Linked DNA regions of Homo sapiens: all the other regions are linked to region 2. Evidence: fine-mapped expression QTL. A gene starts in region 2. Each other region holds a variant in brackets. All regions are shown on one strand. Distances are from middle to middle. Region 1 overlaps CTXND1 (cortexin domain containing 1). Region 2 holds the start of CTXND1 (cortexin domain containing 1). Region 3 holds the start of LOC105370918 (a long non-coding RNA gene).

Region 1 (10,867 bases), 57 kb after region 2:
CCAGGCATTTCTGTGAAAAGCTCATCAGCATGCATTTACAATGCAAACTAGAACCAACTCCCAGTCAGCTAATAACAGACCCCAGGAAAAAGAAAAGGTCTTCCAGACCTCCCCGACACACTTTAGAACCCTCAGGGGTGAAAAAGAGGGTGCTCCAGGGCAGTGCAACTTAAACTGTGGTTGAAGGACAAACAGCCTCTGCAATACTTGAGGAGCTTGTTAGAAACCCAAACTCACAGCCCCCTCCAGACCTACGTACAGAATGTATATTAGCAAGATTCGCTAGGTGGTTTATGTGCACGTTAAAGTTTAAGAAGCACTGCCTGAGAATCCCTTGGTCCTAATTAATTCTTTTCCACACTCAGATTTGCTAATGGGTTTCACCTTATCTCTTGACTCTTGTTTGATGGCAACAGGAAATAGTAGCATTTCAGGAAGGGTGGAAAATATAAAAAGCACTCCCAACCCAAGCCTCCAAAAAACAGCAATTTTCATTTTGTGTCCATATATTCCCTTCTAATCATTGTCCTCATGCAAGATTTTTTTTCATAAAGATGATCTGCTACATAATTTTATATCATACTCTTTCTCCTAACATTACATCACAAGTATACTTTCATGTTGCTGCTACATTCTTCACACTTGTCATTTTAATGGCCATAAAACATGACATCTAGTGCACATATATAATTATGTAGACTCCTATTATTAAATATTTGGATTTCTTCCATTTTCCCTGTTGTACATGTTCCAAGCAAAAAAAGAAAGATCAAGATAGATATGATGAAGCCGGGGAGCTTGCTTAAGACAGGGGAGAATAAATACTTACAGTACACTCTCTCCATTTAAGAGACACATGGAGCACATGGGGGAGGGAGACCTGTCTAAGAACTGGATCATATTAAGGAGAAAAAAGCAACTGGAATCTCAGGCTTCAGTTGTTGCATTATGCTGCTGAAGCATAGAGGAGATGGTCCTTTGTGATCAGAGCGTCTCAACTCGTTTCTGGCAAGCTAAGATGAACTTTGGGGTTGTGGATAGAAAGATAAACTGATCTGCAAAAGAAATGCACAGAAGTATTGAAGGCTAGAAGTTGGCAGACAAGAAATGAAAAGCATTTAGAGAATGGGAGGCCTGTGAAGGTAGCCACAACCCAGGACTTAAGGAGAACACAGGCTGGAGAGGAACTCTCCAAAGCAGAGAATGGGTGGTGGGTTTTCCAGGCAATGGTGCCTAGTGGCCAGTTTTAAGTTGTTGCTTGTACTGTGCTCAGCTACACTCCCTTCATGTTGCCCCAAGCCCTCTCTAAAGTCTGATAAATGATCCACCACTCTGCAGCAGTGGTCTTTGGGACAATGAAGACACCTCGGTGGTGGGTCACTTAGGGAAATACAATCTGGAAGGGGCCAACAGTCCCAGAGACAAGTGGGGTAGCAGAAATATGCAGAACCAAGAGTTCAGAGTGATGGTCACTAGAAGAAATGTGGCCTCTAAGGATGCTCAGACAGGTGGATATGTATAGTAGGACCCTAGCTTTACCATCCTGGCATATCATTCCCATCATAGCTATTTCATTTTTTTCCAATTAGTTGCTGAAATGTCTACATGTTCTTATCGAGTTGAAAGATCAGTGTCTCCCTGTCTCATTAAATTTCCAGAACTTCAGAGGCTAAATCAATCCAAAAGGGGCTGGCCCTGCTTTCAAACACCAAGTGAAGAGAACTACAAAGTTTGGTGTGTCCACTAGTGTGGTTTCATACCCCCTAGGTCTTGCTGTTGAGGACTGGTTCTGCCAGGCATGATCAATGACCACCCACAATGTCCTGTGGCCCAGCCTGTGGAGAGGTGCCCAAACAGAGTTATCTGGGTCCACATCCATGTGCCCAGCTATTCTGTCCAATCATAGCACAAAGACAGGTTGCCTGTGTCCAGAGGGACACACAGCCTCAGGCACACCAGCCCTTACTTATGAGCTTGATGGTCATCAGCAAAGACTCTCTCCCTTTAGGAGGGTTCTCCTTGGGACTTTTCAGTGTCTTGGCAGGAAAGAGATGGCACACACGAAGCACTGATTGAAGACAGTTTAATGAAAGAATATTTACAGAGGTTGGGCAAGGGTATGGAAAACAACAGGGAACAGTAAAACACCCAGGGATGACAAGGCAAGGTAGCTCATGTCTGTAATCTCAGCACTTTGGGAGGCCAACACAGGCAGATTGCTTGAGCCCAGGAGTTTGAAACCAGCCTGGCAACATAAGCAAGAATCTGTTTATCTACAAAAAATAAAATAATTAAAAAAAAATTACCTGGCTGTGGTGTTGCACACCTATAGTCCCAGCTACTCAGGAGTCTGAGGTGGGAGGATCACTTGAGTCCAGGAGTTTGAGGTTACAATGAGCTAGGATCACACTACTGCACTCCAGCCTAGGCGACAAAGAGAGATGCTGTCTCTAAAAATAAAAAACAAAAACAAACTACCCAGGAACAGGCAGGCCACCAACTGTTACCATCTCTTGCCTAGAGAGACAAGGAGAAGGATCTAGAACCCAGGGAGAGCTATAGCCATGGAGAAGGAGTCACCCAATGGAAGCCCTGGCCACAGCTAGAGGATCAAAACTCCTGCACCCACTGCAGCTCAGTAGGAAGAGAGCTGGGGGAATAAATACCTTGACCTCTTGCCTCCTGCCCTCCAATCTCCTGTCTGGGTCTTCCATTGGCCAAAAACAACAGAAGCTAAAGGTCAGGGGACCCTGGGTGATACGGTCCACATAGGCAGCACACTGGAGCAAAAGAAGAAAAACCAGCACAATTCATCTTATTACCACTTAGCAGCCATTCACAAACTTTGCTTAGATGGGAGAAAAATATTTTGTCCCCGGCACAGGGGAAACATAAAATCTCACCAGCAGCCATATTGTCTGGGGGTGATAGCAATTTAGTCCCACTCCCTCCTGCAACTTAAATCATAATGTAGCCAGTCCCGGGTAAGTGGAACACTTCCTGTAAAGCACAACTGCTAGTGCCCCCTTCTGTGGCTGGTCATGAGGCCCAGAGTGGTAACTGCAGTCTTGTTCTCCCACCACCCATTCCATAGCCCCTCTACTTTCTGGCAGTCCCTTAGCTGTTGGAGAATTTTATCTGGTGGAATGACCCAAATCTTCATCCACAGAGGATTCAAATTCTTAGTGCCGTGTCTTCAATGAGTTGCCACAGTATCCACAGATTCCTAAAGAACATGAAGAGGCCTTGAAGATCTCACCTGGAAGCTCTGTAAAATTATCAGAAAGAATAGCAGGTGCTCTAGGGCAACACTACTCAAACTATGGTCCACGGATGGACAGCATTGGCATCTCTGGGGAGCTTGTTAGAAATCTAATTTCATGCCCCCACCTCAGGCTTACAGAATGAGGACAAGGGATACAGGGAGTACCAAGTGCCCTAGCGAATCCCAGGGTTCCAAAGCTAGTACTCCTTGCCCCTATTGTGTAGCAGAAACCCCACTTTCCCTTGGATATTGGGGTTAACCATCCTGACAGTGCAGTGATCTCTTTCTCTGCCAATATTTCAACATAAGGAGCCCCAGATGGCACAAGATCATCTTCCAATTTAACAGACCCATAACTATATTCCCTGGTGGAAGCAGTTCCTCTTGGTCACTAGAGATTTCCAAACCCACAAAACCTAAGGTTTCTTGGTTAAAGGCCATGTTTGTGGGATATGCTGAGATGAATATGCTGTGGTTTGAATGTGTCCCCCAAAGTTCATATGTTGGAAACTTGATTCCCATTGCAACAGTGTTGAGATCTGGGGCCCAATGAGAGGTGATTAGGCCATGAGGGCGGAGTGAATGGATTAATGCAGTTATCTCAAGAGTGGGTTTGTTATGAAGGGGGTGTTTGGTCCTCTTTTCTCTCTTGCCCATGTGATTCCTTCCACCATGTTTATGATGCAACAAGAAGGTCCTCACCAGATGCTGGTTCCTTGATCTTGTATTTTGCAGCCTCCAAAATCGTGAGCCAAATAAATTTCTATTCATTATAAATTACCCAGTTTGTGTTGTTCTGTTTTAGCAGCACAAAATGAAAGAATGAAACACCACAAATGGCAGGGAGGGGCAGGAATGGCAAATCCATATCTGGAATATGTGTCTATTCCTACTGCCCTCTATGATGAAAGGGATTCAGTGTAATCAACCTGCTACCAAGTAAGCGGTTGGTCTGTCTCCTACCACCCATCTCTGGGAATGGTGCCATATCAGGGGCTTGGCATTGGTCTCATTCATTGGAAGGCTACATATCCAGAAGTTATGGAAACCAATGGACCTTCACAAGGGAAAGCCCATAGTGTTGATAGCCTCTATCCCTTCCACTATGGTCACTCTGTTCATGATGTCATTGAGCAAACACCAGAGTAGACAGAGGAAGAGGCTCACACCCCCAGGTTGGGTCATCTTATCCAGCTGATCGTTGAGAGTCTTTTCTGCAGTGGATGCCCTCTGATAGGCATTTAGATGGCTCTTGAATATCTTGACACCCAGGGCCCCTTCAAAGATGTCTTTTCACACATATCTGCCCAAGACTGCCTTGGACCCTCTCTTCCCATCCTGTTCAGTTGGGTCAACACTGTGATTCTCCTATTGGAGATGGTTAGGAATTCCATACAGCACTCCATTTGCAACAGATACTTCTGGCACTATTGGATCTGCTGATCTTAAGGTCCAAATGGCAGAGTAGCTTTCATCACAGTCTGGATATACCTTTTCTAGAGCCCTGTATTATTCTGGGCCCCATTCAAAACCAGCAATCTTATGATGTAACCAGTAAATCCATCAGACACACACACAAATGTTCTATATATTGCCTCAAAAATCCAGAGATCCATCAACTGCTGAGCCTCATTCTTTATGGTGGAAGACACAAGGTGAAGCAACATGTTTCTCATCTTAGTGGGGATATTCCAACAGGCCTCAGCCTGCTAGAACCCAAGAAGTTTCACCAATGTGTCAGGTCACTGAACCTCCACATGTGTTTTCTTCCCCTCTCTGGCAAGCATGTGGCAGTACAGCACTTGCTAGTCCTCATTCACCAGATCCAATTAGCATAATGTTATCAATGTAGCAGGCAATCATAAAGTTCTATGGGCTGTCAAGATGATAAGGGTCTCATATCATATGACAGAAACCAGGAGAATTGGCAGATCCCTGAGGTAATGCATTTAGGGTGTGCCGCAGTCTTGTAACAGGTGAAGGTGAACTCCTTCTGATTATCTGTATTGATTGTGATGCAATGGAAACTATTTCTAATATGACAGTTCTCAAACTTCAGTATG[C/T]ATTAGAATCACCGGGACGGCTCATTCTAACACAGCTGGTAAGCCCCTAGAATTTTTAATTCAGGTGGTCTTCAGTGGAGTTCTATAAATTGTACATCAAACACATTCCAAGGTTAAGCTGCTAATCCAGACCTACCTTTTGAGAATTACTGTTCTAGTCACCAGGTACAATACCAGGTGCACACCAGGTGTCAGGGGCTGAGCGGATCTTCTCTAATAAAGATACCACATCCAGAACAACTCCTGAAATGGCATTAATTCCTGATTGTGTTTATGAAAATCTGTAGGACCCACCTGGCTTTTGCATAAGCCAGACAGGTGACTTAAATAGTGATGTGATTAGAACCACCTGTCCTGCATCTCTCAAGTCTTTGAAGGGGGCACAATTCAATTGCCCTGAAGATGCAGAATTGCTTTTGGTTTACTATTTTGTCACAAAGAGGCAGTTCCAAGGGCTTCCATGGGGCCACTTCTACAATAATAGCCCTCACTCCATGGGTCCAATTGTCACCCTTAATACCAATGACTTTATTCATCAGGATTTAAGCGGCAAATTCAAAAGGTTCAATGAAGAGGGTTTAATTTTGGGACAATTTTCAGAGGGACAGGTAAGGTAAAGAGAATCAGTAAGGGTTGATGATTAATCCAGGGTTAACAATGATAAGAAGCCATTACTGCCCCTTGCCTGGGGAGAAAACAGTGGCACCAGAATCTAGCAAAGACTGTGGTTATGTTGCCCACAGGAGCAGTAGGACATAGTGGGACACAGCCACTGCCCAAACCATGGCTCAGCAGGGAAAGAGTAAGGAGGATGATGCTCTCTGCTGCTTTATTCCTCTATATTCCAACCTCTGCCTGCACCTCCACTGGCCAATCCTAACCAGCAGCCAGAGAGCATGAGCCTGGGTGATGTTGTCCAACGAGGTCAGCCTCCAGGTGCGCAAACAGCAGGGCAGGGAAGGATGGAGAATAGATCTGGAGGGACAAAGGGAGATGAATCTGCAGAGGGCCCTGGGTGTTCTTCCTGCCAACAGACCTCAGTCAGGACCCAACCAGTGCACCCAAACCAATTTTCTAACTTTGACTATTTAGGAGGGAGGATTGGAATACCAGTTTCTCACATCCCTTGGACTTCTTATGCAATTTGGTCCACTCCCTCTCCACCCTTCTGCACCAAAGAGAGGGGCACCCTGGTTATATCCAACTATACCCTTTTTCCAAGGAAAGGAGTGTCCACTTGCCTCATCTACATAACTAAGAAGGACCCCAGAATTGAGAATACTTCAGCTGACCATACAGAGGCTGCTGGTCAACATATACCCCCAAAAAAGATTACGCTGTCCCTTAGAAGCCACCTCCATTTCACAGCAGTCATCCCATTAAGTGGGGAGATATGCGGTTTCACTTTGGAGATAGGACAGCAGCTCAAGCTTTCCACGAATATATATTAAGGGAAGAGAGACCCCAGAAAGCTAAATGACTTGATGACATTCAGGAGGCTGAAAGTTAGGCTACAAAAATAGTGCTTCAGTGACCAACCTTGGTGCACACAGGTTTTTTTTTTTTTTCCTTTTTTCTTCTCTTAGATTACCAAATACAGCACTAATATCATTTGAAAGAAGAGTTTGCTTGAGCTTATAGCTACGAAACGGGGAACTTTGTGAGTACAATGCCACACACATTTAGAAGCAACTACTGTCTAACAGGGGCTTTGGACACAAAGATGCATAGAGCACAGCCCTGCCCTTGAGAATCTTGCTTCCACAGGCCGAAATCAAAGTCCACATACCACTAGACCATAAATGGGGAGAGTGTTGTCCTAGATGCTGAAAGCTCTAGAATCCAGTTTCAGCTCTGCCACTCACTAGTTGTGTGAAATGAACAAGTCTCTGCTATTACAAAACAAATATCAGAGACCGTGTGGGGTCCAAAGATGGAGGTAAAGAAGCAATATTGCCCTTAGGCTGGGGTAAGGTATGGAGTGGGGGCTTCCTTGGAACTCATGCCACAGAGGGCCCAGCTTATAACAGATACGCACATACAAATCAATTTGTTCAAATTCATACAAGCACCTCTATCCCTCGGGCCTCAGGTTGGTGCAGCTCAACCTGTACTGCAAATATGAGTAATACTGTCCAAGCCAGGGGAGTTCTTCTTTACATCCCTGCCCTGTGTCCCCAGAATAAAAGAGACTGTGTGAATGTCACGCAGGACTGTGGCAGGTCCAACCCTGGAGGTGGACATGTCAGTGGAAGCGCTTAGGTAAGAGAAAGGAATGATTATTCAACTTGTTACACACTTCCTCCTAGCCAGAATGTAACTGATTCTTCCCCAAACAAATGACATTTCCCATTTATATCAAATATCCACTTTCTTGCTTTTTTTTTTTCTTTTTTGGCTTTTATATGATTGAAAATTGGTAAAATAGGCAACTGAACTTAATTATCATTGCCCTTGAAGAGAGTTGATGGGATGGCAATATTTGGATGAGAATTAAAGACATAAATTCATCAACTACATACCTACTTTATAAATTTTTAAAACCAAACTTTATTTCCAATCTGTGGTTCTGAAGGGACTCACAACATGTGCCCTCGTTGGCACATGGGTCTCATAACCTAAACAAAGAGTGATACTAATTCTTTACTTTGGCAACTAAGTGGACAGTGAACACTAAGACTGCAAAGTAGTTTTGTTTTTATAAAATATATTTAATAAGATTTAATTAATTTTTTTGAGCTGGGTGCAGTGACACGGGCTTGTAATTCCAGCTACTCAGATGGCTGAGGCAGGATGATCCCTTGAGCCCAGGAGTTTGAGGCCAGCCTGGGCAGCATAGTGAGACCCCATATCAAAAAACAAAACAAAAACAGATTTTATTACATTTTCAAAAAATGAATTTAGACATTTCATTTTGATTTAAAGAATTTTGAGATTAAATATTAAAGCTCTTTAATTATTTGTATCTCGCTTTTTATTATTAATAATTTTGAATATTTTCAAAGAAAACTAACTTTGAAAATGCATATGAAAAATTTAATTTTTCAATTTTTAACACAGAGTTTTGATGAAGATATTTACTTCTTGTACACTGAAGTATAATTCAATGTACTTTTTAATCTTTTATATCATCAATAAACCACACATTATATGAAAAGCTCAGGAGAGCATAATTAATGATTCTAATGAAATTAAAGAAAGAAAAATAATTGTAAAAATTAAAGTCTGATTTTAAAAATGTATAAAGTATAAAATTCATGAATTTATGTCTTTAATGCTCATCCAAACATTGCCATCCCATCGACTTTCTTCAAGTGCGGTGATAATTAAGTTTAGTTGTATATTTTACCAATTTTCAATCACATAAAAGCCATCACTTTGCAAATATGTTTGTTTTGCAATTATGAAAGCAAACATATCTAGGTAGGAGAATAGAAAGTATTTTATTTAACAGTGTATAGCTTGTTTATACCTCCTAAATACTGAGACTCCATGAGCACTCTCAGCTTAGGCCCTGCAAATGCTAGAAGTAGACCTATCAATAAGACACAATCTGCTCCCAGTGCTCTCCTAGAATTCATTCACTTACTGAATGAGTATACATCGAGCGGCTCTTACGTGCTAGGTACTGATGAACTTTCAGTAAGCAAAAGCAGACTATCCTCAAGGAGCTGAAAATCCAATGAAGGCAGATATTGATCAAATCATCATAGACAACAAAGGTCTATTTATTTCCAGGATCATGACCTTGGTGGGAATAGATGTGCCATGCTACTCCATTCCCTCTCCAAGAAAGAAATTGTCACTCCAACTTTTTGGTGTGCTGTTGGCAAACAGTCTGAAAATAAGACTGGCCTCAGCCTTATTTAGTTTTCAAGAGCAGAATTTTAAAAAACAAAAACAGGCTTGCAAGCAAGCATCCAGTCTTGGTCCCTCTCCCACGAGTTTCTTTCTGCCTCTCTGCAGGAGGAAGGAGAGCAAAATACTCCCACAGCCCTGGAAATCTTGCTGAGAGGACAGAAAGAGAGGGGATACACAGAAAACAAATTAGTACTTCAGGATACAACCCTGCCAAATTACTTTTTCTGGGGGTGTTAAAGGGAATATGCTTCCAAACTAAAGAAAGGGAGAAAATGTGAAAATAGAACCACTTTTGAGATCCATTTTGGTGTCAGGAATCTTTGAGATAATATTAATTGTGATACTTTACACCCCAAAATTGCCAGGCATGGTGTGTCATGCCTGTAATCCCAGGACTTTGGGAGGGCAAGGCAGGAAGATCACTTGAGCACAGGAGTTCAAGACCAGCCTGGGCAACATAGTGAGATCCCGTCTCTATAAAAAATCAAAAAATCACCTGGCCATGGTGGTGTGCACCTGTAGTCTCAGCTACTTGGGAGGCTGAGGTGGGAAGATCACCTGAGCCAGAGAAGTCAAGGCTGCAGTGAGCCAAGATTGTGCCACTGCACTCCAGCCTAGGTGACAGAGTGAGACCCTTTCTCAAAATTAAAAAACAAAACGAAACAAAAAAACAGAAAAAATCCTTAAAGTTCCCTTGTCCTCAAAAACATTGTCTTGGTTCAAGTCTACACTCACCCTCAGGAGAGCTCTCAATGTACAGTGTTTCAAAGGTAAACCAATGTGTGTGAGAGGCCTCAGGACAGAGAAGTCCCATGGTGGGGGCAACAAGGCTTCTCTTCCTCCAGTCCCCTCTGCAATAGGGACAGGGGCTCCCAGCCCCTGGAACCCCTAGTGCCTGCCCTGGCCCCGGGCAGTAGCGTGCCCCTGAGCCTAGCTCCCTTGCCACCCTACAATAAAACCAGCAGTGGGCCCCATCTTGCCAGAAACACCTCTGGACTGACTCCTCCTGGTCAGGTAAAGTTTCAAATGAACTCTACTCTCAGTTTCACAGTCATCCATTCATATTCCGAATGGACCACTGGTTAAAAACAGGAAGCATAAATGGAATACAAATTAATAAGGAAGATATAGTGATAACTATGGCCAACCTGCCTTGAGATGCTCATCATCCCGTCTGAAAGCTCCATTCATCTGGTCAAAATGCTTCTAGTCCTTAAAATATCACTGTCAAAAAGAGGAAATTTGACCCTGAAAGTCATTCTTGTCTATTTCATATTATTACACACAGATAGGTTTCAATAAAGTAGATCTCCAAAACTAAAGACCATTAAAGTCACTTGTCATGTGGGGCTGGCAGTGAGCATTTCTGGAGTCGGAGACAGTAAAACAAAGAGGCTCTTGTCGCTGAAGATTAAGGAAAAGTAATTGCCAAGTAAAGCCCAGGCTGGACCCAGAATTAACATCCATGAGTTTGGTTTCTTAAGTGAATCTGATGCCAGGAACGTTTCTGGCTCTTTCTGCCCTGTGTGTGTTTCAGACTCTGGGGCAGGTCCATTGGGTTTTCCCAACATCACCAAGCCCTTTAAGTGCATTAAATGCCCAACAAGGGGATAAGCGTGTGATCTCTACTGATGACACCAGCATTCTCTGGTGCCAGTGGGAACAAGTGGATTAACAA
Region 2 (10,867 bases):
CAGGAGGTGCATGGGGGATACTTGGGGTTTACCTGCTGCTGGGAACTCCCATGATCCTTCAGGCTGAGTCCTAGCCAGGTATCTCAGCTGTCAGAATTTGAAGGGAGAAATAACAAGCTTGCAGAAAACCTAGACTATCAAGACACTAAGGCATGGAATCATAAAATGGGAATTCCCCCCAGGATTTTGTTTTCCTGTTTTTCTAAATATTTAAAAAACATGGCCAGGCACGGTGGCTCACGCCTGTAATCCCAGCACTTTGGGAGGCCGAGGCGGGTGGATCACCAGGTCAGGAGATCGAGACCATCCTGGCTAACATGGTGAAACCCCGTCTCTACTAAAAATACAAAAAATTAACCGGGTGTGGTTGCAGGCACCTGTAGTCCCAGCTACTCGGGAGACTGAGGCAGGAGAATGGCCTGAACCCGAGAGGTGGAGCTTGCAGTGAGCCAAGATTGCGGCACTGCACTCCAGCCTGGGTGACAGAGAGAGTCTCTGTCTCAAAAAACAAAAACAAACAAACAAAAAAAAGTATATTCATAATACCAAAACCTAAGCCATTTAGAAAAGTACAATGAAGAAAGTAAAAACTCTCCTGAAATCCCATCACTCAGAAAGGAAGGCTGTTAATATGCTAGTGATTATTCATCCAGATATTTCTCTCTGTCTATATGTATAACCACATATAAATAGATTCAACATTATGCAAATGGAATCATATAAGTATGTGGTTTTGAAATTTTCTTTTTTCACTTAACAATATGTTATAAATATCTTCTATGTCAGTAAGTACAGAATCATATTGTCATTTTTAACACCTATTTGGTATTCTACCCTATGGATGCATTTATTCTGGCATGCTATCATGGGATTCCATTCAGTACACAACATTGCATAACAGCTGAGAGTGTGGTCTCTGGAGCGACAACACCTTGCTTTAAATCCTAGTCCTCAATTTTCCAGCTATAAGACCTTGAGAAAGTTGCTTGCCTCTCTGTGTGTTTTGTCTTCTGCAGAATGGAGATGCTAATAGTACTTTCTTACAGTGTTTCTGTTTTGTTTTGTTCTGATGATTAAACAAGTTATTACACAGGCAGTGTTTAGAATAATGCCTGCATCGGCCCAGCACTGTGGCTCATGCCAGTAATCCCAGCCCTTTGGGAGGCCAAGCCAGGAGGATCACTTGAGCTTAAGAGTTTGAGACCAGCCCAGGCAACATGGCAAACCATGTCTCTACCAAAAACAAACAAACAAAACAAAACAAAACAAAAATTAGCCAGATGTGCTGGCATGCACCTGTAGTCCCAGCTACTTGGGAAGTTGAGGTGGAAGGATCGCTTGAGTCCAAGAGATCCAAGCCGCAGTAAACTGAGATCACACCACTGTACTCCAGCCTGGATGACAGAGAGAGACCCTGTCTCAAAAACAAAGAATAAAAAAGAATAATGCCTGCATCACACATCACAGTAAGTCTCATTGCATAGTATTATGATTTAATTATATTTCAATAACTAATCCCCTATTGACAGATATTTGGGTTGTTTCCAATATTCTACTATTATAAATTATTTCTGCAAAGCAACAAACATCTGCTATATATATTTTGTCCACTTGTCAGATGATGTCTTTAGATAAGTTCTTGAAAATGAATTTGCTTGTACATAAAGTATTCAATTTGATATTTGTCCTCAAACTGCTTTCTAGAAATATTGTACCAAATTACATTCTCATAAACAGTGAGAGAGAATGCCCATTTTTCCAGACCCTTCAGCAGCACTGAATTTGTTCAATATTTTAAAATTTGCCAGCTAGTAGGTAAAAAGTACAACTTCCTAAATTTTTTATTTGCATTTATTTCACTGCTAGAGAGGACAGTTATTTTCTCTTGTTTGGGACATTTATATTTCTTTTTTTGTGAACTGGCCGCTCATCTCTTTTATTCTTTGTTCTATTGTGGTGATCATCTTTTTAAAAAAAATGATTATAAGCGTTCTTTGTAAGATATCTACATTAAAATGTTGCTGTTATGTTAGGGCTTTCAGATTAAAATGCAGGACATCAAGTTAAATTTGACTTTCAGACAAATGATGAATGGGACATAATCATACTAAAAAATTATTCATAGCCTATCTGAAATTCCAATTCAACCAGGTTTATATCTCTGTTAAACTTAGTAACCCCATCTCATATGGATAGCAAATATTTTTCCAGTTTGTTGTTTATTTTTGAATTCCGTTTACGGTGTCTTTTTCCATGAAGACATTTATTTGCATATTTTATAATCATATATATCAGTCTTTTCCTTTATGCTTTTATGATATATTTAGAAAGGCTTTCAGAATTCTAGGTTTATGATGACTTTTATGTATATATTCATCTAATTATTTTTTGACTTCAGTTTTTTATGTTCAATTTATGACGGATCTGGAATTTGTTTTGGTCTGGGGAACTAGGTAGAAAATGAGATCCCCACACTTTCACTATCTAGTTATTCCAATATCATTTATTTAAACATCTATTTATCTGGGCCAGGCGTGGTGACTCACGCCTGTAATCCCAGCACTTTGGGAGGCAGAGGTGGGTAGATCACCTGAAGTCAGGAGTTCGAGACCAGCCTGGCCAACATGGTGAAACCCTGTACCTAACAAAAATTTCCCAGGTGTGGTGGCGCATGCCTGTAATCCCAACTACTTGGGAGGCTGAGGAAGGAGAATTGCTTGAACACAGGAGGCAGAGGGTTGCAGAGAGCCGAGATCGTGCCATTGCACTCCAGCCTGGGCAACAAGAGCAAAACTCCGTCTCAAACATAAAATAAAATAAAATAAAAACTATCTATCTGATTAACATGAAGTACCACCTTAAACACCACAGTTTCTCATGTACTTCTAATTCTGGGCTCTTCATCCCATTCCATTGAACAGTCATGTCCGGACCAGTAATGTGCTGGTTTTTGCCTTGTGACAGAGGCGGTGTCGTGTGATGGGGTTGAAGCACATAGATGCATAGTTTTTGCAGGCAGAACGCCTGCATCAAACCCCTGATCCCCTACTCCTACTTGTGTGACCTTACACAAAAGTGTAAGTGTGATACTTACACTTTTGGGCTTCCATTTCCTATCTGAAAATGGCAGCAGTATCAGTACCTGCATCATAGCTTGTTGTGATGAATAAAATGCATTAATCCACGTAGAGCACTTCCTTAAATAGTAAGCACTCAAACAATGTATTTTATTTATTCATTTATTCATTTATGCATGCAAGCATTTCTTCATTTTAATATCCAGCAGGGCTAGCTTCCCTTATGCTCTTCCTTATCAACATTTTGTTGCCTGGTCTCTTTATTCTTCCACATGACACTGAGAATCATGTCAAGTTAAAAAGAAAATTCTACTTGGAATTTGATAGAGATGGCATTGAATTGACAGATAAAGAGGACATGATGGGATTACAGTGTTTACTTCTTCTTGCCCAAGAATAAGGCGTGCGTCATAATAGATTCAAGTCTTCTCTAGTCCCCTAGTAGAGAAGGTTGTTTTTTTTTTTTTTTCTTTCACATTTCATGATAAGTTTATTTTTCCTAGCTACTGTGGCTTGGCTATTAGTGAGAATGGGATTTTTTATTTGCCTTTCAAAATGGTTAGTAAGTGCACAAGAACACCGTTAATTTGGTATGTTTATTTTGTAGCCTGCCAATTCCTTGGAAAGGCTATTATTTCAACAATCTTCAGTTTGCACTTTCCAACTACACAATCACATCCGCTGCAAACAGTAATCATTTTTCTCCCGCTTCACATATATATAATATATATACATATATACACACATATAGAATATATATTTTTTTAACAAAGGCACAACTTCAGTATTTTTACACCTTATTTCCTTCTCTTGTCTGATTGCATTGACCAGACGTCCCAAACCGGCCCCCTGCTCTTGCCCCTAACTTTAATGGAAATGTTTGGCTTGCTATGAAGCATACTGCAGGAGAAGGCTTTGAGAGGGTTTTGCTGTCGTTGTTGTTTGGGGGGATTTTTTTTTTTAACTGTAAAGAGAATATCTGAAGAAAATGCATTTGAAGAGCATATTGGAATAGCCCAGATTGGTTTGTGCGCCTGCAAGGAGCTCTTGGGCCCCCTCCCCTCGCTGCCAACGCTCTGCCCCGGGGGCTGAAGTTTCTCTCTGCGTTTCCGCTTGAACAGCGTCCAGCTGCCTCGCCTTTAAAATGCCAGGACGGCCGCGGCTCCGCTCAGAGCCCCCTCTCGGCTGCTGGCCCGGGCTCGCCCGCGCCGCTGGGGGCTCTGACTCCTGCCGAGCCGGGCCTGGGCAGCGCCCCCCGCGCCCCGCGAGCCCGCGCCCCCGTCACCGGGAAACGCCGTAGCCGGCGATCCGCGGTCGCCCTGGGCTCGGCGCCGGCCCAGCCAGGACCCCGGGAGCGCACGGGACGGGCCTCGCCAGGTAAGGACCGCGGGAGCATCCCGGGACCCGCTGCCGCGGCGCCTGCGGGGCTGGAGCACAGCATTGTCGGTGCCGCCGGGGCGTCGCGCGGGTCACCGGCCGCAGGCGGAGGATCTGCTCGCTGAAGTCGGGCCGAGCCCTGCCGCGGCGGCGAGGAGACCCGCGTGGACACTGGGACCGATCCCCTCCTCGGCGGCACTGCGCCCGGGGCGCGCCTCGGTCGGCGGGGAGGGCCGGACCCGCGCGGCAGGGGACAGCAGCCTCGGTGGGAGCCGCACGGGAGCCGCGTCGCAGCGGCCCGAGTTCCACTGCGGGGCTCGGGGCTCAGAAACCGGGAGAGTGTGGTGCTGTGCTCAGGCACCCTCGCTGTTCTGAGCCTCACCTCCCCATTCGGGGATCCTCGGCCTCTCTGCCATTGAGGGGTTTGGGGAGTGTGAGTTGAAACTGAATCAAAGTTAGAAAGTCCTTCTCGTCACGTTCAGTGCCTAAAATTCCCTCTCCTGTGGCTGACAGTCACATAGAACAGATTTTTTCTCAATGTAACTGATGAAGGTCAGCACGGATGTAACTTCTGGGGAAAGTTCTGCTGGTGGCAGCCTTTCTAAAGAAATGTCAAGTCTCCGTTGGATTTTGTTCTCATCTGTGGCAAAAACCCTAATCCACGCTTTCATATATTTTTCCGTATCAGTGGAGGCGTAGACCTATCCTGGGTTCTAATGTTTTGGGGAATGTATTATGGAGCCGAATTTGGTAAGAGTCTCCGTGCCCGCAGCAAAAGTTCTGGAAAAGAACCTGTTAGAAAATCCAAGCTGATGCACCGCCTCACCAGGCGTGCAATAGGGCCACAGTGGCCTGTCAGGATGTGGCTCGGGACCCAGGAAAAAAGCTCCATCGAAGCCTGTGCTGCCTTCGTGGGGAGAAGTTCCATTCTAACCCACTCGTGCATCCGCCGGCAGGTTCTTCTCAGTTCTCCTCTGATTCTAATCAGAGGATTCGAGTTTCTGGATTAACACTGTGATACAATCTTACCCTTTTCCATAAAATATGTATCCAGTGAACTAGGGGATCTAGTTCCGAGGGTCTGGAGTTGAAGTCTTCTATACTTCCCTCACCCTCATTAAGCCACATCTTGAGAGGAATTGTAATAATCTGATCTGTGGTCTTTGCGAACCTGCAAAGTGTGTGTAAGACCTCATAAAGCCAAACATTCAAGGCTTTAAAGGTGATTTATAGATTAGATTTTGATTAAGGCTACCTTTTCAGGGATGGCTCAGCATAAGATATGTACCAGCTTTGAGGAGGCATTACGGAGGAAAAGCAAAACCTTACGTCCTTGGGAAAACTGTTCTGAAACTAATGACTTTACATTTATCCAAAAGAGAAATTGTGGGGAAGCTGTTTATTTATTCTGTGTAATCATTGCATTCATATGTTGTTGTTTCAAAGGATTAATTTCCCAATCAGTTTTCCCAGTAACACTGTTTATGATTTTTGAACGGCATGCAAGTAATGAATGCATAGAGCATAATGTATCTCTAACCCAAATACATGTGGAAAATTATAGCAAATTTCTCGCCATTACATGTTTAAGATGCAGATTTAAAATAAAGTTATGGCAGAATAGGAGTTGTTTAAAAAATAATATGAACTTTAATTGGCCTGAAAAAAAAAAACTAGCTCAACTAGAAGTTCAATTGCTGCTTGCTTATAAATTGTGATTTACAGAATTGCGTGTGTCTTTCCAGTTCCTTTCCTTACAGGGTTAATGAAAGAGGCAGCCATTCTGAATATACTGCCTTGCTAGTTAATCTTTCTCCAACAAATATTTACACTACCTGGCCACACTATTACAGCACAGACTCAAAATCTGCAACCCTAAAATAGTTTGTGTGTAGTATTGCCCAAATTCAATACTATTTTCATGACGTAAATAGAAAATGAAATGGTATCAAGGAAAATGTCCTTTAAGTATCCTGTCTTGCCATAATAGAAAGAACAGTGTTTATAAAACTGACATGGTTCCTAGACTGAGGTTAATGCTCCTAATAAGTTCTGATGTAGAAGAAGACCATAATGACTGTGAATTTTGACATTGAAGGCTCTGGAACCGGTCCGTGTCTGCAAATTTTTTAGATAGCTTAAGTTTGCTATTAAAAGTGACAACATTTAGAACTGTTTGGGATGGAAATATTTCTAAAGCACATTACATGCTTTCTACAATCAGAGAGTCAGCGAATGGGAATTTGTGTGTTTCCTGACAACTCAAGATCAGCACTGTGAATATCAGTTGCCTTGTGGACACCGGGGAGAAGAACACTGGCATTTGTGGGGGACAAATCAGTGTTTAGTCCTGGCTCTGCCACTAAGTCAGATGACCTTAAGCAAGCCACCTTTTTTATCTTCAGTTCTTATTTGTAAAACCCCAGAATCATCAATTACTAAAAGTCAGTTCCATTTATTAAGCCCTTAGTATATACTAAGCATTTTATATATTCCATCATTTAATTATCAGGTTTATTATCCCCATTTTCCTGACAAGGAAATTAATGATCAGAGAAGCAACTTGAATTACTCAAGGTTAAATGAGGTAGGAAAACTGGGATTCTGAGTAGGGTTCTTCCTCTAAAAGATCTGACTCCTAGTGCCCTTGTCCCGTTAGAATCCCACAGACCCCAAAATGGCATTCTATCCCTGTCCTTAGGATGGCGTGATGGAAAAGAGCTGAGTTCCCCTGAGACTGGAGCAGGGTCAGAAAGACAGGGAATTGAGGCTGGGCACAGTGGCTCAGCACTTTCAGAGGCCAAAGCAAGAGAATCGCTTGAAGCCAGGAGTTTGAGACCAGCCTAGGCAACAGAGTGAGAACTTATCTCCACAAAAAAATTTTAAAAATTAGCCAGGCATGGTGGTATGCCTATAGTCCCAGCTACTTGGGAAGCTGAGGCAGGAGGATGACTTGAGCCCAGGAGTTCAAGGCTGCAGTGAACTGTGATTGCACCACTATACTCCAGCCTGGGCAACATAGTGAGACCCTGTCTCTACCAAATTAAAAAAAAAAAATCAAAAAAAGAAAGAAAGAGAACTGTGCTGCCACTCCTGCAACCCAGCCTGGTGGCAGACATGGGTAATTAAAATACAATGTTCTTTCCATAGACATGAATCTCTATGCCCAGGTGGTTACCACGAGTTGACCAGAGGCAGCAGGCATACTGACACCTGTCTGTTATTTAGAGGCTGATATTATTAATAGCTGACAAGTGGCCTGACACTGCATGGCCTTTATGATCACATCCAGTTCCCTCCGGCTACCCTGGCTTCTTGACTCAGACGGAGCTCCCTGTGTTCTAGAAAACTGCAAATTAATGGCATACATTTGTCGCACCTCCCTCTCTTGCCTAGAGCAGACATTGCTAATCAATTATGATATTCTTTCCCATGGAGCCAGAACGAGGCCTCAGAATCCTTTTCTACAACTGCCTGGAGTTGGCTTAGGAAATGGTATCTAGTTAGGTACTGTAGACAATGGGGAGAGATTGAGGAGTTTTAAGCCAGGAGAGTAATGTGATGGCAAAACTCCTGAAATTGTTTCCCTAATGTACCTTTCTTTCTCTCCTTACCCTTTCCGCTGCGTCTCCTATAAGCCGTAGGATCATCTGTAGAAATGACCCCTGTGCAGGCAAACCTGCCCCAAGATTCCCCACATCAGACGCAGGCTATCTTGATGCATTGCTACTAGGCCTGAGGGAACAGGTCTGTTCCCAGGTTGGGCTGCCTGCATCGAATCAGGTATGACTTGTACGACCAGGACATCAAAGACAATGAGACTTTAGAGTTGGTTCATTTGTATGTGAGAGGGCGTAGTCTAGGCTGGCACAGCAATGAGGCCCATGCACGGGAAGAGCCACAAGCCTCAGGTCCCTGGAGGGCATGGGAGGGCATCCTCTCCATTGAGAGTAGGCTGTTCAGCTCCCAAGATGACCCTCCTCTTGGAAGATAAGTCTGGTGCCCTCTACGATAGCTGATGTTTCAGAGGGGTGCACTTTTTCGCTAGGTCAATTGACTTGACAAATTGTCATTATAGATTCAGCTCCCAAGTAGTGACCTGGGTTCCAACAGCATTAACAGTATGGCAGAATTGTGCGGTGATAGTCAAAGCATGTTCCCTTTCCCTGGGCCCAGTTAAAATGTTAATATATTCATTCTCAGTGTCTGCAGAAGAACAGAGAAAAGTTGCTACCTTTAGGAAACTAAACTGTGAAATCCTGCCTCTCCCTGGTGTCCACATTTCCATGTGAACAAGGAAATTATTGTTAATCAATATGCATGCCCAGTGAAATCTAACTCTCCTAAAATTTGTCTTCTTGTTCAGCAGTTTTTCTGGTTTCTGAGGATACTCCTCAGCAAGATAATGGGTTTCTATGTTAGTGTGAGGAGGGTGGATTTGAGTGTTCCAAGGGTCAGATCTCGACCTATGACTAAATTCCTCCCTTACCACTCCCACTCCCCACCCTCCCCAGGAGCACCCAACCCCTGCAATTCAGAAGAGGCATTCTTCATCTGTCATTCCAAGGAGGGGACTTCTGCCTCCAATGGAGACCAGCAACAAAGCCTTTTACTTTAACCCTTTGACTATTCACACAAGACAAAAGGCACCCCTCTTAGGGGTGCAACTATGCACCTCACAAGCATAGTTGATGGGGATGAGGGACAATTTGAGGAAGCTCCTACACGTGGAATGTTGCTAAGGTGGTGGGAGGATGGGGAAGGGAGAGATCTAGTCATCAACACCTTAGCAGTTGGATTCACAAATTATGGAGCCTTGGAGATATTCTCCTAGGGGAGCATGGGGACCTCCTGGTGTCAAATTCACCTGACCTGTCTTCAAATCTTAACTCCACCACTTCCAGCTGCGAGACCACAGACACACCACCCGACTGCTTTGAGCCTCAATTTTCTCATGGGTAAAATGGAAAGCGGAATACTGACCTCCTAAGTTTTAAGACAGGCTGACAGAGGAGACTATATGAAATTAACCAGCACCGTGCTTGTCACACAGCAGGCCTGGGAAAATGTATGTGACATCTGAATCCGACTGCGAGGACAAACCTTTCAGTGTCCCTAAGTGGGCAGCACAGAAATGGCCAAAGAATCAACTGTAAGGCTCATTGTAAAATGCAGATTCAGGGACCCAACCTCAGATCCCTGAACCGCAACTTCCTGGCACAGAGCTGATAACAGACATTTTTAAACAAACTCTATGAGAGATTATTAGGCACGATAAACATTAGAGTCTAAAATCTGAGAATCACTGACCCAGCTTGGGCAAATTAGCAGTTTGCATACTTGCTTGACTCAAACTCCAAATCCCCAAAGTCCACAGTTCATTCTGCCTGGGCAGAAAAATGAATGCCCTCTTTCTCCTTCTAAACATAGAGAGACACACATTAACTCCCACAACGGGTTTCACACAAGGGCACTTCATAATTTCCTGCTGCCTCCAATGTCATGACGCAGTCGGCTGTCAGCACTGCCAGTAGCCAAAGCTTCCCTGTCCAGGCTTATGTGGCTCCGATCTTCATCGTACCAACCCAGGAAAAATCACAAACGGATAAACAGCAAAGCCCAGATCTGAGGCCAGGTGCCTTTTAACCATGACTCTTCCACAACAAAAGTCCATAATTACTCCAATTTCAACCTATACACTAGGAAGTTTCTCTCTATTCTTACTTGATCTCATAGTATTTTTTCCACCTTTATATGAATTGAACTTTGGAATTACAGAAAATTTGCTTCTTTGGAAGACAAAGATTTTAGTAGCTTAACAGCTGAGTCCTTTGAATTCAGAGCAAGAAATGTTTACCATTTATTTTTTAAGTGTACTTTTTGGGAGGAAAATGTTTTTCTCATTATACAAATTACAGATGTGCTAGGTGGAAATTTTGGAATACTGAAAATTATAAAAGAAGAAAATAAAAACTACCTATGATCTCAGACACATAATTACCATGTTAGTATTTCCTCCAGTTTTGTCTCCCTGGTGTTTTTCTGGTGTTGTTGTTGATTTGATTTTCATTACAAAAGTGGAATCTGTGAGAATGACACCTAATAAATTGTGTTCATGAGGCTTGCGGGGTTGGGGGTTGTCCATCAGTAGCATGGGGGCTGGCCAGGAAAGATCGTGGTGAGAGTGGAGTTTGATGAGACTTTGAGCAATGGACAGATTTGGGCAGCAGAGGTAGGCAGGTGGCATTTCACAGGGAGAGGGTGGTGGCAGAAAGGGGTGGGAAGGGTGAGAGCCTCAGAGTGGCTTTAAAATACGTCCACAAGTTCCTTGATAATCAATCCACAAAGAGGTAGAGTCCATGCCCCCTGTCCTTGAAACTGGGTGGGCCTCTGTGGCTGCCTCAATGTATAAA
Region 3 (10,867 bases), 770 kb after region 2:
AAAAAAAAATGAAAAGAAAAGGGTGGGAAAAATATATGTTATGCAAACATTAAATAAAAGAAAACAGATGTAAGTAGACCAACATTAGACCAAGTGGATTTTAAGGAAAGAAGAATGAGTAGAAATTAAGGCAAATATTTCTTAATGAAAAAGGGTCAAACCACCAAAAAGTTATAACAAATATAAATGTTTATGCACTTAATGACATAGGTGCAGAGAATATTAAAAAAATGGACAGAAATAAAATTTTAGAAAAGAAATGAAAAAACACACAATCATAGTAGATTTTAGCATATCTTTTTTTTTATTAATTATTAAAATAAACATACAAGGACAAAATTCAGTAAGGAAGCAAAATATTTGAATAGCCTACTTGTTTTAGTTCTGTCAGTTTTTGCTCCAAGAGTTTTCAAGATCTATAGTTAGATGGACACACATTTAGGATTCCTATGAATTTTTGAAGCATTTGTTCTTTTATTATTATGGACTACCCTTTTTATTTCTAGTAATATTCTTTGCTCAGAAGTCTTTGATATTAACATAGACATTTCAGCTCCCTTATGACTAGCATTTACAGGGATATCTTTTTCATCTTTTTGCTTGTTATTAACCTGTATCTTTAGATTTAAAGTGTGTTTCTTGTAGACATGACAGAGATGAGTCTTAGTCTTACTTTTTCATTCATTAGACAATCTCTGCCTTTTTTTTTCTCTATTTTTTTTTGAAATGGAGTTTCGCTCTTGTCCCCCAGGCTGGAGTGCGATGGCGTGATCTCAGCTCACTGCAACCTCCACCTTCCGGGTTCAAGCAATTCTCCTGTCTCAGCCTCCCGAGTAGCTGGGACTATAGGCATGCACCACCATGCCCAGCTAATTTTTGTATTTTTAGTAGAGACAGGGTTTCTCTGTATTGGTCAGGCTGGTCTTGAACTCCTGACCTCAGGTGATCTGCCTGCCTCGACCTCCCAAAGTGCTGGGATTACAGGCGTGAGCCACCATGCCTGGCCATCTCTATCTTTTAATTGGAGTGTTTACACTATTTACTATGTCATTATTAATATGTTGGGCTTAAGTCTATCCTTTTTGTTATTTTTTCTTTGTTCCATCTTTTTTTGTGTTTTTTTCCCCCACTTTTCTTACCTTCTTAACTGAGCATTTTCATATTCCATATTATGTCCTTTACTAGATTATTAGCTATACTTCTTTGTTTTACTTTATATTGATTTTTCTATTTCAGGAAACATCTTTAACACATTATCATACATCTTCCAGTAGTCTAATCCCACTTCGTATATAATGTAAAAGCCTTGCAGATACATACTTACATTACTTTCCACCAGAACTTTGTGCTACTTTTGTCAAACAATTTACTTGTACATTTTATAAATCCCAAATATATTGTTGTTAATTTTTTGCTTAAAAAGTGAATAGTGTAAGGACTTCTGCTTCTGACCAAAATGGAGTAATAACAAACAGATTGTTCTCCCACATGAAACAACTCAAAAACAAGCAGACAGAATAGATAAAATTGTAGTTTTCAATACACAGGAATCAGGCAAAAAAGGACAGTAATCCTTGAGAGACAGGAAACAAACAAGGTGAGCCATGTGATTGCACCAGTGGAGTAATGAAGAGAAGAGAGTTGCACAGAGAAAGAACTCAGATGTATTCAGAGTCTCCCTTGAGCAGCAACACTAGGAAAGAACAATCCAAAATAATTAGAGGGATCAGTATTCAGTTCTCAGCGGGGCCGGGAATAGTGTTAGTTCCCTTAAGGAATGTTGGAATTTATTTGGAAACAAAAGCCTTTTCTAAATAACTTGTGGGTCAAAAAAAAAAAAAAAAAAATCAAAAGGTAAATTTAAAAGTACTAGGAACTGAACAAAAGTGAAAACAGTGTATCAAAATTTGCAGGGTGCTATGAAAGCAGTACTTAGAGGGAAATTCATAGCACTAGACACCTATCTTAGAAAAGAAGACAAATCTCAAATAAATGACCTTAGCTTCCACCTTAAGAAGCAAGCAAAATGAAGAGTAAATAAACTTAAAGTAAGTAGAAGAAAGAAAACAATGAAAATCAGAATGGAAAAAAAATAAAAAGCTGAGAAACAATAGAGAAAATTAAAAAAAACAAAAACAGAAAGCTGGTTTGTAAAGAAGATAAATAAAATAGGAAAATCTCTAGCCAGACTGATCAGGAAAAAGAGAGAACACATTACTAATATTAGCAATGAGAGTGGCAATGCCACTACAGAATATAGATATTAGAAGCATAATGAAAAAATATAATGAACAACTTTAAATCCTCTTTAAATCATTGAGCATATTTATAATACCTGATTAAAAGTATTTGTGCCTGCTGTTTCCATAATCTCAGTCATTTCAGGTTTATATATATTGGATTTTTTAAATTATGGGTTTAATTTTCTTGCTCACATTTTCCTGCTTCTTTACACATCTATCAAGTTTTTGTGTGTTTGACATTGTAAATGTTACATTATTCAGTATCTAGACTGTGTTGATGTACTTTAAAGAGTGCTGGCTGGGCGCCCCGGTGGCTCACGACTGTAATCCCAGCATGTTGGAAGGCTGGGGCAGGTGGATCACCTGAGGTCAGGAGTTCGAGACCAACCTGGCCAAAGTGGTGAAACCTCATCTTTACTAAAAATACAAAAAATTAGCTGGGCATGATGGCAGGCACCTGTAATCCCAGGTACTGGGGAGGCTGAGACAGGAGAATCGCTTGAACGCAGGTGGAGGTTGCAGTGAGCTGAGATCACGCCACTGCACTCCAACCTGGGCAACAGAGCAAGACTCCATCTCAAAAAAAAAAAAAATGTGCTGAAGTGTGCCTTGTCAGGTAGCTAAGGTACTGTGGAGCAGCGTGGCTTTCTGGAGACTTGTTCAGGACAATTCTAGAGCAGTCTTTCTCTAGGTTTACCTTAGCCCTATTGCTAAAGCATGACCTTGACATTGTCTCTTCTGAATGTACTGGGAGTTCGGTTATTTCATCCCATTATGGCTGGTCAGAATTCAAATGTTTCCCGTGTCTCTGTGAGCTCTGAGAATTGTGCAGTTTACAGTTACCCAGTAGTAGTTCTTTGTCCAGCCTCGTGGAGTATCACTGAAGCATGCGCTATTTAGTATTCGACTGAAGACTCAAGAGGGTGCATATGCAGATTTATGGAGCTTCTCTTATTGAATAGCTCCCTCCCCTCCAGTACCTGGGTCTGATGTCCAGCTGTATAGGTCTCCACAAACTACGATCTCTGTTTCTCAACTCAGCAAGATCACTGTGCTCTGCTGGTCTCCCCGCATCATGGTCCAGAAAGTGCCCTAGACAGATAGCCAGGGGACCTGAGTGATGGCCTTGTTTGTTATTCAGATATCACAGTCCTGTGCTGCCTATTGTATCATGCGTGAAGACAATTATTTCATTCATTTTATATATTCAGTTTTCTAAATTTTTACTGTGGGAGAACAAGTCCAGTGTCAGTTTCTCTGTCACGGCCAGAAGCAGAAGTTGACTCATTTACGTATGCGGGTGTATTTATCAAAGCTTTCTGTACAATTTCCTTGGTGTCATGCATAGAAAAAGTCTTTATATTAACTTATATTTTCTGCCAGTACCTTAATGGCTTTATATTTATTAATATTAAATTCTTTAGGCCATGTAGAATTTATTTTGGTGAGAGATGTAAGGCATTAGTCTAGCTTTTCACAAATGGTTAGCCAATTGTGCTAACCCAATTTTCTAAATAATCTATCCTTTCCTTAGAGGTATAAAATGCCTCCTTTATATACTGAATTTACATGTAATTGCATCTATATCTTGACTCTTTTTTTTTCAGATAAATTTTCCATTGCTGAAGTAGTATAGGAAAATTACTCTGAGTTCCGAAATACTGACTTACAAACTAATTGTTAAAGCACACTCCACAGAAAGAAAATGTGCTGAAATGCAAATAATATGGGATGTAGAGGCAAAGAATATTGACTCGACTCTCTGTTCTACTACATATTCTCTGTGTAACGCTCAACCCACGAGCATCAGTTTCTTCAGTAGTAAGATGGGAAAATTGACATTCCATTATTTCCACTTCACTTAAAAGCTCTGTATTCCAGCAGGACAGAACTTCTCCGTATTCCTAAGATACCTTCCTTTTATACGTCTCCATGTCCTGGCCCACATTGTTATCTCTATTTGAAACAGCTTTCTTATTTTCTTTTTTTGGTGGTGAACTCTTATTCACCTTGCAATAAA[T/AT]AGATATGCCATCTCGTCTCTGGTGCTAGATTCTCCAGCTACTTAACCCTCTTACTCCCAACAGCCTGCACCCACATCTCATTGTGCTATAATTATTTATTTACACATCTGTCTCTTGTGGCTGACTTCAAACTCCCTGGCAATAGAAGTTGTATTTTTCTTAACATTCTCTGATCATCAGAATTAACAAGAGGTGCTCAGTGGGCAATGGCTGAATGAACTGGTGAATGAATGGATACACAGCTGCAGGGCTGAGTGAGTGGCTCATCAGATTGGCTGTTCCATTCTGCCCTTGGTAAGCACACTCCGGACAAGGTGTTTGCCTTTGTGGCGCAGTTCTCTACAGTCTTTTCTGCTTCCAGATGACAGAACATGATGTCAGAGCTCTTCTCCCTCTTGTGGGACTCCTGAACCCTTGTGCCAAATCCCTGGAAGCCTATGTAGAGTTCCTCCAGCCAATGTTCACCTCTTTCCCAGCAGTCCCTTTGCTCCCTGTTTTCTCTGTGGGCTCTGGGCTCCTAATTCAGGGTTTTTGTAACCTCAGGACATTCACATTAAACCCTCAGGTGAGCCACTGAGCAGTCCCAACTGGCCTGCCAGCCTTTGGAACTGTGGCTACCTGGTGGTTGTGACCACTGGCTTCCAACCTGGCCCTTACTTCCCACCTGTCTGTCCTCCTGGGCTGACCAACTGCCTGGCACAGCCCCTTGAATTAGAGGAAGGCAACTAACATTTACTGAGTGATTATCATGAGCTGGGTGCTTTGTATATGGATTTACATTTAATCCTCTCGAAAACTTGTGAGCTTAAGGTTATTGTTTCCATTTACAGAAACCCAGAGAGGCTGAAGCTTGCTCAAGCTTAGAAAGTGGCTGATTCAGTAATCAAGCCCGTGTCTGTCTGATTCTAAAGACTGTGTCCCTTCCACATCTTCTTGTGAACTGTCTGATTTCAGTTTCCTGGGTATTCGTTGTCACATGGTCATCTCTGAGCTGGGATGTGCTGGTTTGGGCCAATTTATTTAGACTTCTGGTGTAAACCCATGGGAGTGGTTCTGTCTAGGCTCATGGAGCAGTAGGTCCTCCTCCAGTGCAAACTCCAAGCCAAACACCACTTGGGATTTTGAGGTACAGCACCTGGCCTCACTCAAATCTGAGTCCAAGTCCCAGCTGTGTTGCTTACAGGTTAGAAGATCTGGTGCAAGACTCATGTCTTTGGTTTCTTTGGCCTGAAATAATAATCCCCACTTACCAGGCTAAAGTGGGGAGCTAATGAATAACCCACAGGGAAATGTCTAACAGAAACAAGCACAGATGAATGTGGTCCACGCATCGCACCCCCTCCCAGACACCGGCATACCCACCCCCAGGGCAAAAATGGTTGCAAAGGGCAGGATCAACTCTGGAATCGATTGCCTGGCTTTGTATTAACCATGTCTTTTATTTTCTGTGTTCTGATGCTTTGATATCTGGGGCCTTCTGACCCTGGATGGACTGCCTCTTCCAGAGTTAGCTAGTTCTTAGTGATAGTGAACAACTCACCTGTGACTGCACTTTTTAAATGCAAACCAACCAATCCAGAGGCCACACTCCAGTCACCCTTTGTATCAGGCTCTTACACTCTGGGCCACTGTTGGCTTGGCCACAACTAGCGACAGCCCATATGAAATTGTTTGAACTGGTCAGTCTTAAGTCTGCTTACACTACCTTGCCCCTTCCACCCTCAAAAACCACAACAAAGGCTCCTACCCACAACTCCCTCTCTCTCTCTGCCTCCTGACCCACTCCAGTACTTCCTATGTGGACCTCGTGGCATGGTCTGCCCCCTTCTCTTGGAAACTATATTTTTAATGGCAATCACCTTCCTAGCTATTGGCCTTATATCTTACATTTTCTATTAATATACTATACTTTAAAACAGGCTTTGAATCCAAGATTCAAGACACCAGCTGTGTAATCTCAGGCATTCCTCTCTGAGCCTCCATTTTCTCAACTATAAAATAGGGGCAGTCACTGTTTCTCCTCCTCCTCCTCCTTTTTTTTCTTTCTTCTTTTTTTTGAAACAGAGTCTCGCTCCGTCGCCCATGCTGGAGTGCAGTGGCGCGATCTCAGCTCACTGTAACCTCCGCTTCCCAGGTTCAAGTGATTCTCCTGCCTCAGCCTCTCAAGTAGCTGGGATACAGGCATGCACCACCATGCCCGGCCAATTTTGGTAATTTTGTTTTCAGTAGAGACAAGGTTTCACCATGTTGGCCAGGCTGGTCTCAAACTCCTGACCTCAGGTGACCTGCCCACCTTGGCCTTCCAAAGTGCTGGGATTACAGGCGTGAGCCACCACGCCTGGCCCACCATTTCTATTTCTTAAGATGGTTATGAGGATTAACTAATGGATCACCTGACACATGCTAAGTGCTCAACCAGGGTTAATGCCGTTAGTGTGATGATCACTGCTGTGCATTCTGTACTCACCAAACACCCACCATGGTGCAATGCACAGTCTGGGGTGGACACAGTGCAGCCCTGATTTGGACGAGGACGAGCAGTTAAGACCCCTTCTCTGTGTATTTCCTGACCATCCAAATACAAATTGGGGCCCCTAGTATTCTGAAGAATTATACATCTGTTCAGGAGAGGCCGGGAGTGGAACCTGGCCAGTCTTAGGACCTGAAGGAACAGTTATTCTGACTGGTGAGCAGCAGACCTGCATTGGCCACAGAGCGTTGCTTGCCACGTGGATGGCAGGAGGCTGGATGGACAAGCGGATGGCACTGCTAACTTGGTGTCAGAGTAGAGGTCAAGTGAGAACACGGTGAGCCAGGTTGATGGCTAGGAGTCAGGAGAAGGTGATTGGTCAAAGCTAAATTATAGGAGCATCAACCTGTATGCAGAGACCGTGTTACCAGGACCATTCTTTTTTTTTGTTTTTGTTTTTTTGTTTTTGAGACGGAGTCTCGCTCTGTCGCCCAGGCTGGAATGCAGTGGCATGATCTCAGCTCACTGCAAGCTCTGCCTCCCAGGTTCATGCCATTCTCCCGCCTCAGCCTCCTGAGTAACTGGGACTACAGGCACCTGCCACCAAGCCTGGCTAAGTTTTTTTGTTTTTGTATTTTTAGTAGAGATGGGGTTTCACAGGACCATTCTTTACCTGGGTGTGCTGCGGCAACTGGACCGGTCTAGCAGGTGGAGCAATGGCTGGGGTGAGGATATATAGACAGAGGATAGTGACTTCTAGGAACCCAGATACCACTTGATCCTCCCCAAAAGAGAGGTCCCAAGCGCATATGGACTGCACCCCTAGAGCTGAGCTAGGTTGGCAAATGTAACCTGCAAGGCTCTGCATAATTGTTCCGGTGCATCAAACTATAGCATAATGTAGTAACAACGGTGATAGGATGTGAATGTTAGGGAAATGCTGTTGACCTAGTTGGTGGAGGAAGAGGGTCACAGCAGGTATGTGAGATCAGTGATTCTCAAATTTGAGCATGACTTAGAATCACCTACAGGGCTGTATAAATCACAAAGTACTGGGCCTCCAGCCCCAATCTCCTGCAAGTTTCTGATTCAGGTCTAGGGTGGGGCCTGAGAATTTGCATACCTAACATGCTCCTACACTAGCCAGCACTATGCTAGTTAATATTTTTCAAAAATAACTGCTTCCCTTCCATACCAGGCACCATGTTCTTAGGACCTTCCTTGAGCAAGGAGTCTATTTTCGTACCTGAAGACATCGGGCTTGGTTTTATGACATGGCTTGGCAATGAAATGTGAATGCAGGGATTGTGTGCCAAGAACTATTGTGGACTTTTGCCGTGTCTCTTTTCGTCTCTGTCAGGAGACCCGCATGTCCCAGATGTAGGGCTGCTCATTCAGCCTGGGTCTTATAATTAAGAAGACATGAAATCCAGCTGCACCTGACCCATGATGAACATGTGACATGGGAAATAAGCAAACCGTTGTCATAAGTAACTGAGATTTGGGGAACTGCTTGTTAGGGAAGCATACCATGGCTTAAAGTGACTGATATAGAAGACTTCCTAGAGAAAATGATGCCGAACAGAGTCTTAAAGGTGAATTATCTAGACAGAGAAGAAGAGGCAAGGCTATGTCAAACTTCATCCTGTAGGGACCTGATAAACCTCAAATGTGACATGTCTAAAACAAAGGCTTAGATGCCATTTCCCATCCCCAAATTGTTCCTTCCAAAGTCTTCTCCAAGACATTAAATAGCACCATCACCTACCCTGTTTCTAAAGGCAAAAAATCAGGAAGCCCTCCTTAATCAACTTGTCTAATTCCCCCACTGCCCTCATCAGCAAGTCCAGCTGGCTGCACCTACAGATACAAGGTCAACTCCAGGGTCTCATCCTAGTTTAAGCCGCCACCATCTCTCCCCTGTGTTGTTTGCAATTACCCACTTGCTGGTCTGCCTGTTTCCACCCTTGCTTCTCTTTACTCCATTCTCCACACTGTAGCCAGAGCAATGTGATAAAAATATAAATCAGAGTACAGATTAGCTCATTTCAGTCCTTGCAGTCTCCAAAGGCTTCCAATTATATTTAAAATAAAACCTCACCTCCTTATTGTGGCCTGCAAAGCCCTACATAATCTAGTCCCTGTCTACTTCACTAATCTCTCCTCACACCATGTTCCCTAGTCCACTTCAGTAAGTTCAAGACACATTGGGCTTCTTTCTAATCTTCATTCCCACCTCAGGACCTTTTCACTGCAAGTTGCCTCTTCCTCAGTTGCTCACATGCCACCTCCTCCTGAAAGCCTGCCTTGGCTACCCTAACTCAAGAAGTTCCTCTGTTGCTCTCCAAGTTGATCTCTCCCAATGTTTCCTTTCCTTTCCGTCATTGCCCTCATTGCTGATTACAGTTATTTATTTGCCTATTTGATTGTTATCTGCACACTCATTAGAATGGACGTTCCAAGACAGATAGAAGATCAAAGATTTTCATTCATTCATGCATTCACTCCTTCATTCAACAAATATTTATTAAGCATCTAGTATGTACAAGACATTGTCAGTTGTTCTGGGGACACAGCAGGCAATACTACTTCAGCAATAAACCACTGCCTTACACATTACAGTTGCTCAATAAATATTAGTTGACTAAATAAATAAATGAGTAAACCAAAAGGTAGGAAAAAGGTTGAATCAGAAAGGATATTGATCACAAGTACATTGCTAACAGTAAAACTAAACTTTAATAACAAAGCAACAAAACTGCTAAATTAGACTGGCTGGGACATCCAGATCAAACAACATTGGTCCAGAGAAAATGAGCTAGGAAAGGCTGCCTCATTGGGATTTCTGAAATTATGCAAGAATCATTAAAATGTAGAACATGACTATGAGTAACCAGCATGAAAATACCAAGTGCATTTCTTCTATTCACAGAATGACTACCCAGTAACTTATGTGGTATAATTTATTGAGGGCTTTCCTTGACAAATGAAAGGAAACCGTATTTGCGAAGGAAACTGCAAATACGGTTTCATTTTCAAACTTGTGCTGCCAATTTCTATGAATAATTTTGTGTCCAGGATTTAATGAATCTTTCAGGAATTTTTATAAACTGCTACAAGTCAAAGTCAAGAGACAGTGTTTGCAAGAAGCAGTGTTTCAAAGGTTTAAATGCTATACCTGGTTCTGGCCAGAAACTCTGAAGTTCTCTTCTTCTTTTCAGATATTGGAATATTCTTCATGTAATGCAGTATCACTTCTGTATGAAGCCACGTGTAACTTGTCCCCCTCCTTTCCATCATGAGAACTACTGAAGATGTAAACCAAATCCAGGTACAGAAAAGTCTCAATAATTCAGGCTTTGGAGAAAGCCAGTGGGAGCCATTGCGAAGCCTGAATTCTAGAGCACTAGGGTATGGTGTATGTGTTTTTTAAAAAAGTACATTCAATAATATAAAGTAAGTCAACCAAGTATTGACTTTTGCTCATAGTTGGTGGGGAGGAAGCTAAATTAATGATATATTAAAATGCCTTACAGTCGCATATTGCATATTGATTTGTCCTCATAAGGAAGATAAACAATTTTTCCTATAAGATTACTTATACATTATTTTCTTAATTCACTTTTTCAGAGCACTTTCAATTGAATTTCAGGCAAAATGCAATCTAGGCCTAGTCCAGCTAAATGCAAACTTTGGATTTGTGGGTCTAAATTTTTTTATTGTAAAACTTAAAAGCATTCTTATATCCACCATTGTAGAGTTACTCTAACATTCTTCAAAATTTTATCAGAGACTTCTTGCTGTTTTTAGGTGTCAAGATATTTATTAATTGCTTTTTACAATGTGCTGTGACTCATGCTTAAAGTAATCACTTTTCTTTAATGACTCAAGCAGGGAAACCAGTGACATTTGTGAATAGTAGACGGGATAAAAGGAGCTGGACACACTCTTTCTTCAACATCTGCCATGATATGATTTCACAAGCAAGAAATGTGCCAAGGCTTCTACCCAAGTAAGCTATTATTCATTTATTTCATTGTTGAGGAATGCCTTAATATGACTAGGATAGAAAAATTATGTTGATGTGCTTATACAAGAAAAAAAATGAACAGACCAAAGGAGGAGAATAAAAA

Evidence for each region. PIP is the estimated chance that this variant, and not a neighbour inherited with it, causes the effect.
Region 1: its variant is the best candidate, but not a certain one, in a credible set for the expression of CTXND1 in tibial nerve (GTEx, PIP 0.50).
Region 3: its variant is the best candidate, but not a certain one, in a credible set for the expression of CTXND1 in cerebral cortex (GTEx, PIP 0.89).

What each region holds. Positions count from the first base shown.
Region 1 is chr15:80,188,659-80,199,525 of GRCh38, reverse strand. CTXND1 (cortexin domain containing 1) reads left to right here. Exons shown (of 3, transcript NM_001352888.2): 3 at 1-4,045. Among named protein-coding and RNA genes, the nearest start is that of FAH, 41 kb to the right of the region's middle. RefSeq lists enhancers at 2,114-2,283, 10,024-10,193. The variant C/T (reference allele first, on the strand shown) is at 5,329.
Region 2 is chr15:80,245,594-80,256,460 of GRCh38, reverse strand. It overlaps CTXND1 (cortexin domain containing 1), which reads left to right and starts at 4,248. Exons shown (of 3, transcript NM_001352888.2): 1 at 4,248-4,454.
Region 3 is chr15:79,474,272-79,485,138 of GRCh38, reverse strand. LOC105370918 (a long non-coding RNA gene) reads left to right here and starts at 9,956. Exons shown (of 4, transcript XR_007064729.1): 1 at 9,956-10,065; 2 at 10,629-10,746. The variant T/AT (reference allele first, on the strand shown) is at 4,264.